Regions from separate parts of the Homo sapiens genome. Here all the other regions are linked to region 2. The links come from fine-mapping of genetic effects on gene expression. A gene starts in region 2. Each other region holds a variant in brackets. All regions are shown on one strand. Distances are between the middles of the regions.

Evidence for each region. PIP is the estimated chance that this variant, and not a neighbour inherited with it, causes the effect.
Region 1: its variant is the best candidate, but not a certain one, in a credible set for the expression of ERMARD in fibroblasts (GTEx, PIP 0.51).
Region 3: its variant is the best candidate, but not a certain one, in a credible set for the expression of ERMARD in whole blood (INTERVAL, PIP 0.85).

The regions. Positions count from the first base shown.
Region 1 is chr6:169,809,624-169,813,866 of GRCh38, forward strand. No RefSeq gene overlaps it. Among named protein-coding and RNA genes, the nearest start is that of LINC00242, 13 kb to the left of the region's middle. The variant C/T (reference allele first, on the strand shown) is at 2,130.
Region 2 is chr6:169,749,560-169,753,802 of GRCh38, forward strand. ERMARD (ER membrane associated RNA degradation) reads left to right here and starts at 2,063. Exons shown (of 18, transcript NM_018341.3): 1 at 2,063-2,104. The coding sequence starts at 2,099. DYNLT2 (dynein light chain Tctex-type 2) reads right to left here and starts at 2,013. Exons shown (of 4, transcript NM_174910.3): 1 at 1,780-2,013. The coding sequence starts at 1,899.
Region 3 is chr6:169,438,787-169,443,029 of GRCh38, forward strand. It overlaps a transcript of WDR27 not described here. Among named protein-coding and RNA genes, the nearest start is that of LINC02519, 53 kb to the left of the region's middle. The variant GT/G (reference allele first, on the strand shown) is at 2,191.

The DNA of each region.
Region 1 (4,243 bases), 60 kb after region 2:
ACATTGACGTCCGCAGCACTGACACCCCTGGCACTGAGACCCCAGCAGTGACAGCCCCTGCTGTCAATACATAACAGTAATTTGTTATTTATTTATTCTTGGTTAGAACTCACAGAATAGTACAGAGAACAACATAGAACCTCTAGGTACTCACCACCTAAATCCCAAACACAGTATTTTTCCACACTTCTTTATTTTCTGAAATACACAAGGCTGTTCACCCTGGCCTGGGGAGGGTTGTGGAGCCTGTGTTGTTGGAGCAAAGGTTGTTAACTATTCTGAGTGTTATCTCTTTTTTCTATCTATCACATATACATTGAAACGCTTCCATCCTTTTCCTCAAGCCAATGCCCCCACTCTCCGAGGAGACTCTGCTCTGAGTTCGGTGTGTGGAGTTGGGTGACGTTTGGAAAGACAGCATGCTACACATAATGTAAATGTAACTACTTATGTTTCCAGAAATAAACTTCAGTATTTTATGCCCTAGTTGAATCTTGAAATAATACAATTGAAGTTCAAGCTTGAAATGCTCTAAAAAGTTTGAAAAGCTAAGTTCAACTGTACAATTTGAAGACTTCTCCAGTGCTGAGGCTTAGCTGTTCACCCTGACCTGGGGAGGGTTGTGGAGCCTGTGTTGTTGGAGCAAACGTTGTTAACTATTCTGAGTGTTATCTCTTTTTTCTATCTCTGCTGGCCTGTGTTACTCTCCGGCTCTGCCTAGGGAAGCTGAGCTTAGGATGGGTTAAGGGAACAACTGGACGGAAAGCCCAGGTAGGAAGCAGCAGGAAGTTACTGAGCCCATGATGCAGGGCTCAGGGGAGTGGCCTCGGTGGGCAGGGCTTGGGGGAGCAGCCTCGTTGACACAGGGCTCAGGGGAGTGGCCTCGGTGGGCAGGCTGCACACCTGTACTTCTGGGGGCTGTTAGAGGCCGCTGGGCAGTTGCTGCAGCTGAACCAGACATGAGAGAGGCTTTCACTGGTCAAAGGCTTGGGAGGACACCGGGGTTTCCCCAGGCCTTGCACGTGCAGATCAGCTGGCGTGAGCCCTGTGGATAATGAGACTCTCTGATGCTGATCTTCCCGCGGGTGGAGCACCAGACACAGATTCTAGGCGTGGTTTCCCCCAGTTTGTGTTCAGCCAAGGAGAGGCCCTGGCCTCTGGGATCCCGGGAAAGCATATCCTGCAGGGAATTAATCCCAGGGTCTCAGGTCGCGTTATGATTCACTCGCTGGATAGTTAAACGACCCAGATTCAAAAGGGGCAGCTCAAACCTTTGCCCCCTGGGAACAAAAGCAGGAGATTAGCTCTGTGTTATCAATCAGCATTGTCAGGACAGAATGAAAAAGGCTAACTTTAAAGGCTTCACCTGTTGAGGCCTTAGTCAGAGCCTGGATGGGAATCAAAGGTCATTCCTGCCCAAGGTTTTGTCTCAAGTCCTCAAATGGGTAGCACTGAATTACCTTTAAAAATGGCCTCAAAGGACCGGAGATGAAGCATGGATTAGTGTCTTAATCTTAATAGCACGAGGCCTGTAGTTAGGGTCCAGGGAACTTGGGGGAAGAGGTGGCATTGTCCTGGGCCGTCCCTGGCATGCGGTGCTATTAGAGGTGGGCTGGGGTGAGGGTGGGCTTTGTGCCTCTGGACAGGACCCTTTCACCGGCTTTGGGGGCGTTCTCACAGAGCTTTGCCAGCTGACTTAGCGTTGGCCCTCTGACAATGGGATTTGTCAAGACCAGATGAATGAAATCTTAGGCTCAGACGGGGAAAGGCAGGTATCCTGCTCTGGTATTTATGTGAGGAGCAATGTTGGGCCAGCCTGAGCTGTGGGGCTGGAGAAGACCCCAAATGCCAAAATATGATCTGGTTTCTCTGCCACCCCTCATCCCCCTTTAGTGCCACCGGGGACAACCAAATCTGATCAGAGGCCGCCTGTTTCTGCCTGTGGGTCCTCTACCCAGCTGCAAGAGTGGTTTCTATACTGATGTGGACCCCAGCCTGCCTGCTGTGAAGCTGCCTTCAGCACAGAAGGGGAGGTTGGGGCTGGCCTCTGAGGAGTGACCTGGCCGAGCCCACTGTCCACCAAGGCCTCAATGCCTTCCCTGCCACGTAGGGTCCCCGTTTCTGCCTGG[C/T]GGCATGAGGCTGTGCCGGGCCTGTCATCGCAGATCGTGGGCAAGAGCTGCCTCAGGGTGGAAGAGACTGCACAGAGCTGTCCCTGAGTGGCCTCTGGCTAGGACAGGACCTGCAAGGGGAACAGCCTCACTTCCTTCTCCCTGACCATTCCGTCCATACTCAAAGCCGACTCCCTTCCTCCCTCTCCAACCCACTATGTGCTGTGGATGGGCTGTGGCTTCACTGGGCACCCCCATCTGCTGCCTCTATTGTTCCCCATCCCCAGCCAAGTGGGTCTTGTTTTCCTTCACTGCAGGCAGAACTCGAGCCTGTGCTGTGCCCTGATGAGTGGCTCCCCTTCTTCCTGGGCCGTTCCATGGGTGTGCCTTTGCCACGCTCAACCTTCCCACCCCGACGCAACATTGATCCCCAAGTCAGGGTGGGCTCGGGACCCCTCAACTTTCCCCTGTGCCCCTGTGCATTTCATGGGCAAATCAAACCTTTTCAAACTCTCGCCTCCACAGGTCCCCAGGGGTGGACACTCCAAGGTCCCCGTTGCTCCTGTCCTCTGCCAGCCGCCTCACCGCCTAAATCAGTGGCCCAGCCCAGGCCATTACCACAAGGCTAGCTGGCCTCGATGTCAGCACCTACCTTTCTGAGGGCGACTTTCTGAGGCTCCAGGCCCCAGCAGGTGGGATTTCTCTTTCCATCCGCACCCCGACGGCATCGTGCTGGCTGTTCAGTGTGGCGGCCGCAGCTGGTGTCCAGCTACAGCCCACGGAGCCAGGGACAAACCTGGGTTTAGTCAGGATGCCGGTGGGGTTGCCTCGCCTCTGTGCGTGGAGAAGTTACTGCCAGTGTCCCGATGCGGGAATCCTTCCAGGAATGCTCTCACCTGTAAAAATGTAGAAGTTCAATAACAAAATATGAAACTGCAGGAAATGGGTTTGAGATACCTATACGATAAAAACAGATTTATGTAAAACTTATTAGAGGAAAAGCTGAATTAGCTTTCTCTTCTCTTAATAGAAAATGATATATCAGCAGGGTGCATTGGCTCACGCCTGTAATCCCAGCACTTTGGGAGGCTGAGGCGGGCGGATCACTTGAGGTCAGGAGTTTGAGACCAGCCTGGCCAACATGGTGAAATCCCGTCTCCACTAAAAATACAAAAATTAGCTGGGCATGGTGGCTTTTGCCTGTAATTCCAGCTACTCGGGAGGCTGAGGCAGGAGACTCACTTGAACCTGGGAGGCGGAAGTTGCAGTGAGACGAGATTGTGCCACTGCACTCCAGCCTGGGCGAGAGAGCAAGAATCCATCTGAAAAAAAAAAAGAAATGATATATCAAAATTGTCACACATAAAAGCAGTCAAAGGTGTGAGAAAGTGTAGAAAAAGAGCTGGAGAAATGAGGCAGTGTCAGGCAGGTGACTGAAAACACTGATTTTGGATTCTGTGATGTCTGTGGCTTTGCCCGATTTTTCAAGTATGTAATTTGCTTCCATCTCCCTTCTCCTTTCGAATGTGCGTGGAGGGACTCCTTTTCTTGAATAACTCCCCCCCACCAACCAATCCCATTATAAAACCACCAGGCTTCGCAAGGCCTAGTTCTGCCCCCATCTTTATCTCACTTTAGAAGACTTCCCCTGCTCTTGGCTTGAACAATGACGTCTTTTTCTGGGCTCACAAATCTATTTCTGGAATAAACTTCTCCCTGGTGATTTGTCCTTTATTTCCCACTTTCTAGGTTCTCATTCTAATAATTTAATAGGGTTATGTTGATGGTTAATGGTGACATTTGGCCACGGAGGAATACTGATATTTTAAACAGAGATTCAGCAACATTCATAGAATATTTTACCCAACAAATTTGGAAGCATCTTCACAAACATTAGCTTTGAGAAATGTTTTCTAAATTTGATTCTTAGCCAAGTGGTGGAAGGTAGAGGTAGCTTCGGGTGATCCTTAGAAAAAGGTATTTCTGGAGGCTGAGGACAGAAGGGCCTTATTCAAATGATTGTTCTGATCTAAAGCCAGATACAAAAGCCAGTGTAGGAAAGAAAGGGAACTGCCAAGAATGTGTCTGATACTTTCAGACAATCTCTATGCATTTGGGGTCTGGAGAAAAGGAAA
Region 2 (4,243 bases):
GAGAAGGCTGATGAACCAGATTCAGAAAGACACAGGGAACACTTTAGCTTCTCATCTTCAATGTGAATAAACCTCAATCATTTTCTTTGCATTATTTCAAAGAATTCATCTAATTAGCTTAGTTTGGGTCTCATCCTTATTAAAAAGTTAAGGGAAGTAGCTGACAATCTCACCAAAGCTCTATACAATTGCAGATGAGTTAATTCTCTAAAAGTTAACTGAGGTGCTACCACTAGAAAAAAAGAAATGGAGGCAAGACAGATAAAATCAAGAGATGGTCATATTGATGAAACAGTATGTCTTAAATTTTCCTATGCTCCAAAATAGGGAAATTAACAGCTACCTTAAATTAGAAATAACTAAGTGAACAGTTTCCTCAGGTACATTTAGTGAGCATTTGTAGAGTCCTTTCTCAATTTCTTCCCAATTATTGTTCTATTCAAATTTCTCACCTCTAAAAGAATCAACTTTAAAGATAGCTATAATTGATCACATCCATATCAAATACTAATAATTACTTTGGTCCATGTCCCCTCACTCCCAGATTTTAACCTATATACCAGGTGCACCTATGTGTCTCCTCATTTTGAGTTCAGGCTCATTGAATTTTAAAGACCACTTCAGACCTCAGATAGGCAGTAAGTTTATAAAAGCCACCCTTGTCTGCCTCAATATATAGAAATTTTTCTTTACTGTTGGTGACCTGTTACTCAGACTCATTGCCAAGAAATACAGCATAGTGTTTGGGAGTGTGAAGTTTTAAGTCCAACTGATTTAGGTTTCTAGCCCTGCTCTGCTCTTTTTCTTAGCTGTGTAAACTTGGCCTGTTTGCTTTTCCTCCTTTATTTAGTTCGTTCTTTCCTCTGTAAAATGTAGACACCAGGGAAACAAGAACCTGAAATTTCGCCATTATTTTGAGAATTCTCTTTTTAAGAGTAATCTTAAAATGTTTTAGGGTCTTCAAAAAATTGTTTTGCCTGTCATCTCTATCTTCATCCTATTATAGGTCCACGAAGTAAGTACGAAGAGAAACCAGTATAGGCCAATTGGACCGAGTACTAGCATACAGGTTCTGGTCCCAGCTCTATCATTACAGCTTTGTATCCTTGGGCAAACTAATTTTCTGTTAAAGTATCAATAAAATATAGAGTCTTTAATACATTAACGGTTTTCAAAGCCTAATCATATAGAAATACCTGTTATACCACCAATAAAACTGAATAATGACCCTTTCCATCAATATCAGTAAGTTTTGGACAGGGTATTTTCAACTTAAGTTTTTTTCTCCTGTACATTCTTCAAATATCCAGACTGCTGATGTTTTAAAAACCCAAAACATGGCACTATTCTGCCTGGTTTATCAAATTATTTTTTTAATACAACACACTCATTTTTCGCTAGCAAAACTGCTTATAATGGCACTAAATACACTAACATACTGTGTTTTAGTACAAAGCAATAATACTCAGAGTACTCTCAGGAAATCCGCAAGCTGAGTAAATTTGAAAAGAAGATCTTGTAACCACCCTTCCAATCGACTTATGTAGGGTTCTATGGCCCTAATTAAAAAACAAGAAAACTTTAGCACTCAAGTCCAAAGGGGACTGCCCAACTCAGTCTCAGGCTTCAATTTCGCATCTGGGGAAAAAAGAAACACAAAAGGGAGATGCTGCCTCCTTGGCTCTGGGGGTGGTGACGGGAGCGGGGCCCACTGGGGAGCGATTTCACTTAAACGGTCGGACATAGCCGTCTCGGGCCCCTAGCAGTCTCCGCACTCACTGCCTCCTTCTCGAACATGCTAGGCCTCCTTTCTTTCCTAGGCGTCACCGGAGCCTGCTGAGGGGTCTGGTTCGGGGTCTGGATGGGGCTCGACTTCACGCCTCGGCCTCGCTTCTCCATCTCGCTCTGTTCTCCAAGACGCCCACCGCCTCCCCTTCACCGCCGGCGGTCAAACGCCCTAGCCAGTCCCGCGAGGGCGGAAGTCTCCCACCTGCGCCTCGTACGGTAGGAAGTGCCCGCCAGGGCTCCAAAGCGCCTGGAGGAGGGGCGCGCAGGCGCCTGCGTCATTCACGCGCGCCGCAGCGGGGCACCGGAAGTTATGGAGGTAGGGCGGGTGTAGGGCCCGGTTCGATCCCGAGCTAGGCAGGGAGTCGGCGCCAGGCTGGGTGGTGCTCGGCTACGCGGAGTGGGCGAGCGAGCACGCGCCTGCGGTGGCCGGCGGTCCCGCGCTGGAGGGCGCTGGCGACGTCGCGGCCCTGGCCTCTGTGGCGGTATCGGACGCTCGGCCCTGCAAGACGCCTGGCGGGCCCTGCCGGCCTCCCTGGGCCAGGCTCGGTTTCTCCGTCGCCTCCTGGCCCTGAGCTGGAACGCGGCGGACGGTCAGGGAGGGCTGTGCGCGGTGGCGCGGGGGCGGAAAGCCGCAGGTCGGGCTCTCACCTGACCGTGGCTCGTTCCTAGAAGCGCAGTTTCCTAGTCGCTGCCTGTAGGGTCCACACTCGGACAGTAAATTTGTGTTCATCGCCGGGCGTGGTGGGGCCTGTGGTCCCATCTACTCCGTAGGCTGAGGTGGAAGGATCGCTTTAGCCCAGGAGGTGGAGGCTGCAGTGAGCCGAGATCGCGCCACTGCACCCCTGTCTGGGCGACGGCGAGACCCCGTCTCCAAAATGATGATAACGATAACTACCATTTTTGAGTACTATGTGCTAGATGCTTTTCATGTGTTATCTGATTACTGTAGCCCTACCAGGTGCAGCCTGGCACCGTTTTATTTCACTTAGAACTGAGATTCCGATAAAGTAACTTTTCCAAGGCAAGAGGTAGTCAGAGGCTGAGGAATGATTCAAATTTAAGTCCAGCTCCAAAGCACCGGCCCAGTGTAGTCTGCAGAGTTCCAGCCCCATAGAGCCACATGGAGGATGCGAGTGACAATCGCCAATCAACAAATAGTTGATGTAGATTTCTTTAGTGATGACTTAATTGTTAGGGCCTGCTGGGATTGTTCGAAAACCAGGGCTGAGAGTGGAAAGTGCAACTTCTGGGTGCAGGAGGAGCAAACAGGGCAACTGATAGCAGTTTCCACATTAGGAAGCTGCCCAGAGCTAATTATGACTGTCACAACACAGCCCCCCCTTAACTCAACACACCAAAATAAAGAGCTTCGGTTCCGCTTTAGATCCTGAATTTGACTTCTTTGCAGGTTTATACGATGGTCTTAGTGTCATGTGGGGTAATTGTGAGGATTTCGATTGTATTTAATTCTCCATGGAAAACCAGTACGGTTTGCTACTTTTTACATGGCAGGGAAGGCTAAACTTTACCTCTGCCCATCTTAGTTCGGAGTGACCCCTTTAACAAATGAAAGGATAACAAGAAAAAAGTTTATTCTTGGACAGAGTACACATCACAAGGGATAAACCTTAATGAGAAGTAACTTGAAATGGTGGCTTAGAACTACATTTGTATACCATCTTCAACAAAGAACTGTAGATTTGCAGAGAAGTGACAGGACACAGGAGAGCAGTTTTAGGCTTCAAAGGGCAGGAAATTGGGAAGGTAGATACATATTCGGAAACTAATGGAGTAAGAATTGTTTGCAGATTCCCCTGGTACCTTAACTGGTCTGGTAAGTCTAAAGTTATCCCCAGTAAAGAATTTATATCCTGTCTTTGGGCGGAAGAGGGGGAGGATAGAGAGAGCTTTTCCTTCATTTGCTGCCTCTTGTCTTCAGCTCAAATTTGTTGTTGTTTTTATATCGAAGAGGCATGTTTTGGGATGACATTGTGGTTTTCTTCAACACCGTTTAGGTAGTCAGAGGTACGTGGGGTTCTTTTTCCTTCTTGTTCGTTATACTTGGTTTCTGCTCTCCCATTCCCCATTTAAAAAAATTGCTTATTTTGATAACTCTGGGATAGTGAAGGAATGCTGAGAGCAATAATGCTCTGGTCGTAAAACACATTCAGCTTCCGTGAACTTGTATTTTTTCTTTTTTTTTTTTAAGTGAAAGGCAAGTTTATTAAGAAAGTAAAGGAATAAACAATGGCTACCCCATAGACAGAGCAGTTTGCAAATATTATGATTGATAATTTTAGGTCTTTAAGCCTTTATCATATTTGAGAACATTTATGTAAATTATCTTTAATATTTAATCACTATGTTTTAATCATACAGCTCTCACGATATCCAGAAAGCATGTTAACAGCAACTATACCTGAGTGCATTCAGTTCTTAAGAGATGTGTCTGAAA
Region 3 (4,243 bases), 310 kb before region 2:
ATATTTTATATTTTAAGATAAGTTCTTGTGCTTGGTGCTGTCTTTATTAGTTTTTTACTACTTAGAAAAACTAGGTCATCTCTAGTACAGGTCTAAGTTTTTTCCCTCTGAACTATGTAACTTTTTATATTTGCTTTTGAAGTCTTTTAATAATCACTCTGATTAAATAATTATCTCACAATGACATCTGATTATATTTTAATTAAATGTTTTAAGTTTTTTTAACATCTTTAACAAACTTCCCCAAAATCAAATTCTAATTTAAGTACTTTTAAGCTTAAATTGACTTTGGGATTTTTCAGTTGGGCCCCAAAAAAACATCAAACGATGCATCTCCCATGATGCTTATTCGATGGGTTGTATAAAGGCACTGTCAAATAATAAAGTGACACTAGCTCTTACTAAAATTATATTTAGATGGATGCATTATTGATGTGAATGCTTTAACATTTATAAAATTTATAAAGGTCTGATGGTTCTTACTGTGATGCTATCAGTAATGATTTTGGTTGTTATCTTAAAATGCCATACACAATAGAAATAACTAAATTTCTTAATCAATTGCTGAACTTTTATCACATTATAACTGTGACTGTTCTAATTTTTTGGTCATCTACAGTGCTGATTCTTATCTAGTGGCATCTGCAACAAGATTCATAAAAAAGATTCTAGCAAGTACTCCTCAGTACAGATGTCTAGTAACTTTAAGATCAATGGACTAAATAAAAATTTCTAAAATGCTAACAGGTTCATAAAACTGCTAACCAAGATAATGAAGAACAAAATTTAATTGCCTGAGATTGAATAACTGATAAAAATTATGATTTTTATGACTTTTATTTGAAACATTATTGGTTATTCATTTAAATATTTTGTTTTCCATATTTAAGAAAACTTTCTTTCTTGAGCTGCCTATAGCTTACAGCAATTTGGTAAAGTGCACTTTAATAAACAAAGGTGAAAACATTTACTTTTCTACTTGATCCCTTCAAAACTTGAAAACTATTCATGAGTTTTTTATGTTATGACAGTATGGTTTTTAATAGGATGCAATTATAATCGTTAATTATATTACCAATATTATATTGGTAGTTATATTACCAATATTATTATATTGGTAGTTATATTACCAATATTATTATATTGGTAATATAATTATTTAATATATCACATTTAAAATTAATATATCATATTTTACATTGTTTATACTCATACATACTGAAGATAAAATCTGAAGCCTGCCTTGATTTGGCTTCCTAGCTTCAAAATATTTTTAACAAAGGTCCAATCTGAGATTCAATCATTATGCTTGCTATACTAATATAAACAATCAGGCCAAATCTAATAAATCTGAATTTATGTTACAAACAAATTAGTGTTACTCTAATGATCTTTTGTAAAAATTGGGCTGTCTATAGTATATTGTTTTTAGACTGTAACCCTATGCATTGTTTTTGAGTTTTTATTATCTACCTGTAGGCTGGACAGGATACTAAACTCTCCTAAGTTCCTGTAATTCAATTTTTCTCTCACAGAATTACTAAGAAGAGAAATAGTTATTTCCTAACGCCCTATAAACAAATTACAGTTTAAATTTAGTTTTTAGTTTTAGTTTAAATAAATTTCAGGGGACAAGCCTCACGCCTAGTGTGTGGGCTACACAGAGTTCACCAAACCACCCAGTGACATAATGGGAGACATTCAAACTGTGAAACTGCCAACTTCATGCTGTAGGCAACTTTTCCCAAGAGCACTAAACCAAGACTCCATGTTCTAATAAGACCGTTGCCCCTCTTAATGCCTATCTTTTTCACTTAAATAATAGATTACTTAAGTGAAAATCTATTTATTATTGTAATAATAATTACAATGAGCTCATAATTAAAAGTTTAGAATCATACCCGATATGAATAACATAACAAAACCTGACTTAAGCAATTCTTAAGTCCACCTGTTGGGTAATTTTGGCAATACCCCCAAGACAACTTTTTGTTCTAATTGTACTAATGGTCCTTTCTACAGAGCTGGCACTCTGCTTTAATTCATCTTAATCATGAAATGCTAGTCCATGGCTACAACAAGTCTTCCCACTTCCTCTATGGCTTTTTCATCTGCTGAGTTGGTTGCCCTTAGGCATGAGCTCTTGGTTAAAAACCTTTGTACAAATTAAATTTATTATATTGTTGCTGG[GT/G]TTTTTTTTCTTGTATTTTGCTCTTGATATTTAAGCTCTGTTCTTGTGTTTTGTCTAATCTTTGTAAAAATCAGTTATCTCAACAGGATGATGTTAGCCAAATACTTTGAGATTATTGACAATGCCTAAGAGACTAATAAGGTAGAACTTGATGCTAAACTCCAGGCAAACCTGCCCTAAGAAAGGTTTTGGTTGTTTCATTCTGTTTTTCTTTCTGGCACCTTTGTTACTCAAATGCGGTCTGGGTCCCTGATGTTGACTACCTTACTTCCCCCGATGGGGGACCAGAGACCACCAAGACAGGTCCACTAAGCACCAAAAGACAATTAAACCTAATTTCAAGACAGTTGATCAGTAACATTTTCAGAAAAAGATCTTGATCAAAAGGGGGAAATGTGAGAATTAATGATGTGAACTGAAGTTAACTTGTCCACCTAAGTAGATTAGAGTCAGACCAGCGGCAGGTGGGAAGCACCGAGGCACAGGTCACTTGCCCAGGGACAATCTCACCAGCCAGCTGCCAAGTCACTTGCCCAGGGACACTATCAACCAGCTGCCATGTCAGTTACCCAGCGACAATCTCACCAGCCAGCTGCCAGGTCACTTGCTGCAACCTTAAGGCCATTTTTACGCAGGAGATGCTGAAACAAACTCCTGTGACTCCAAGACTAGTGTTACCCACTCTTGTCACTCACCAATCCGAGCTTGCCAGCTCCCTAAAACCTTGCTAGTGCCAATGAATTTTCTTTCACAACAATGCATAACATTTTTCTTTCTAAGAAGACCCTTAATCTTCTTTCTTCTTTGGACATACTGAAGACCACCTAGTCTGTGTGTATGCTTCAAGCTGAAGTCTGTTCTCTAAAATAAAACACTTTATTTAGAGATTCATGTATATATTTTTATTTGACTTTGACAATACTCATATGCCACCTCAGAAGCAAAATGTTTTTAAAAAAGAGGACGGCTTTGGGAAAACCATCACATAGGTTCTATTTTTATGTTTATCTATATACATAACTGGGATATTCAGCCAAAAAAATAAAATATTTCCCCTGACTTGTGATGGCCATTGGCAATTATAAGAAAAGTCATCCCAGAATTGAAAAGTTCAGCCATGCCCTGCCCCATGGGCCAGGTTCGTCTGCTATAAACACTCAGACAGCAAGAATTAAATGGATCCTCATCTCTGTTTTCTCAGTGTTGTGTTTGGAACTGAAAGTCTTTTCCTCCCTTCTTAATGGTGTTAATCACATCTTTATCAATAGAATTCAAAAGGCTCCCTTTATTGCCCTCACAATATGCTCTCCTGAGGCAAATAATTTAGACTCAAGTAACTGCCAAGATTACTGGAAACAATAAACCATATTTACACATGCCTGTTAATGTTTTATGTCTGAAAGAATTCTTATAAAATAGACACCCAGCATCTAGAATCAGGAGAGATATGGAACCTCCCTTTTCATGTTTGTTTTGTATTTTCTTTTACAGGTGAAAGGTAAAAGGTAAAACTTTATATTTTTATCTCCTTATTTCCTTAAGATCTTCTAATTTTAGGAAAATATTGTATCATGTTTTCACCCTCCACAAACAATCATTCTTTTTTCCAGAAATATCTTGACTCCCCTTCAAGAATTTGTCTTCTCATGAGGTAGTAGTGGTGGCTCTGGCTGTGTCCCCTGTGGTCTCCTGCCTTTCCCTGGCCCAGGAGTGGGCACATAACCGAGTGGGACCACAGCTTGGAGTCTGGAGTGAGAATAGGTGGGAAGCTCAGTGGAGAGCATATCTGGCCACCTGGCCTTGGAGTTGTCCTGTCCTGACGGATGCAGGACGACTGAGCCTGTACCTGAGCCCACACCTCCTCCTGCTGCCTGGGGATTCTGCAGGCCACCACCACCCCCACACATTCCCAATGCTATTAAGCATGCCACAGTTATTTTCTGTGGCTTGCAACCAAAAAACTCTAATAACTGATACAATTCTGCAAAGCCAACAGTCACAGACTACCAATGGCAATGAGAGGAGACCACATTCCAAAAGACAATGTGATGA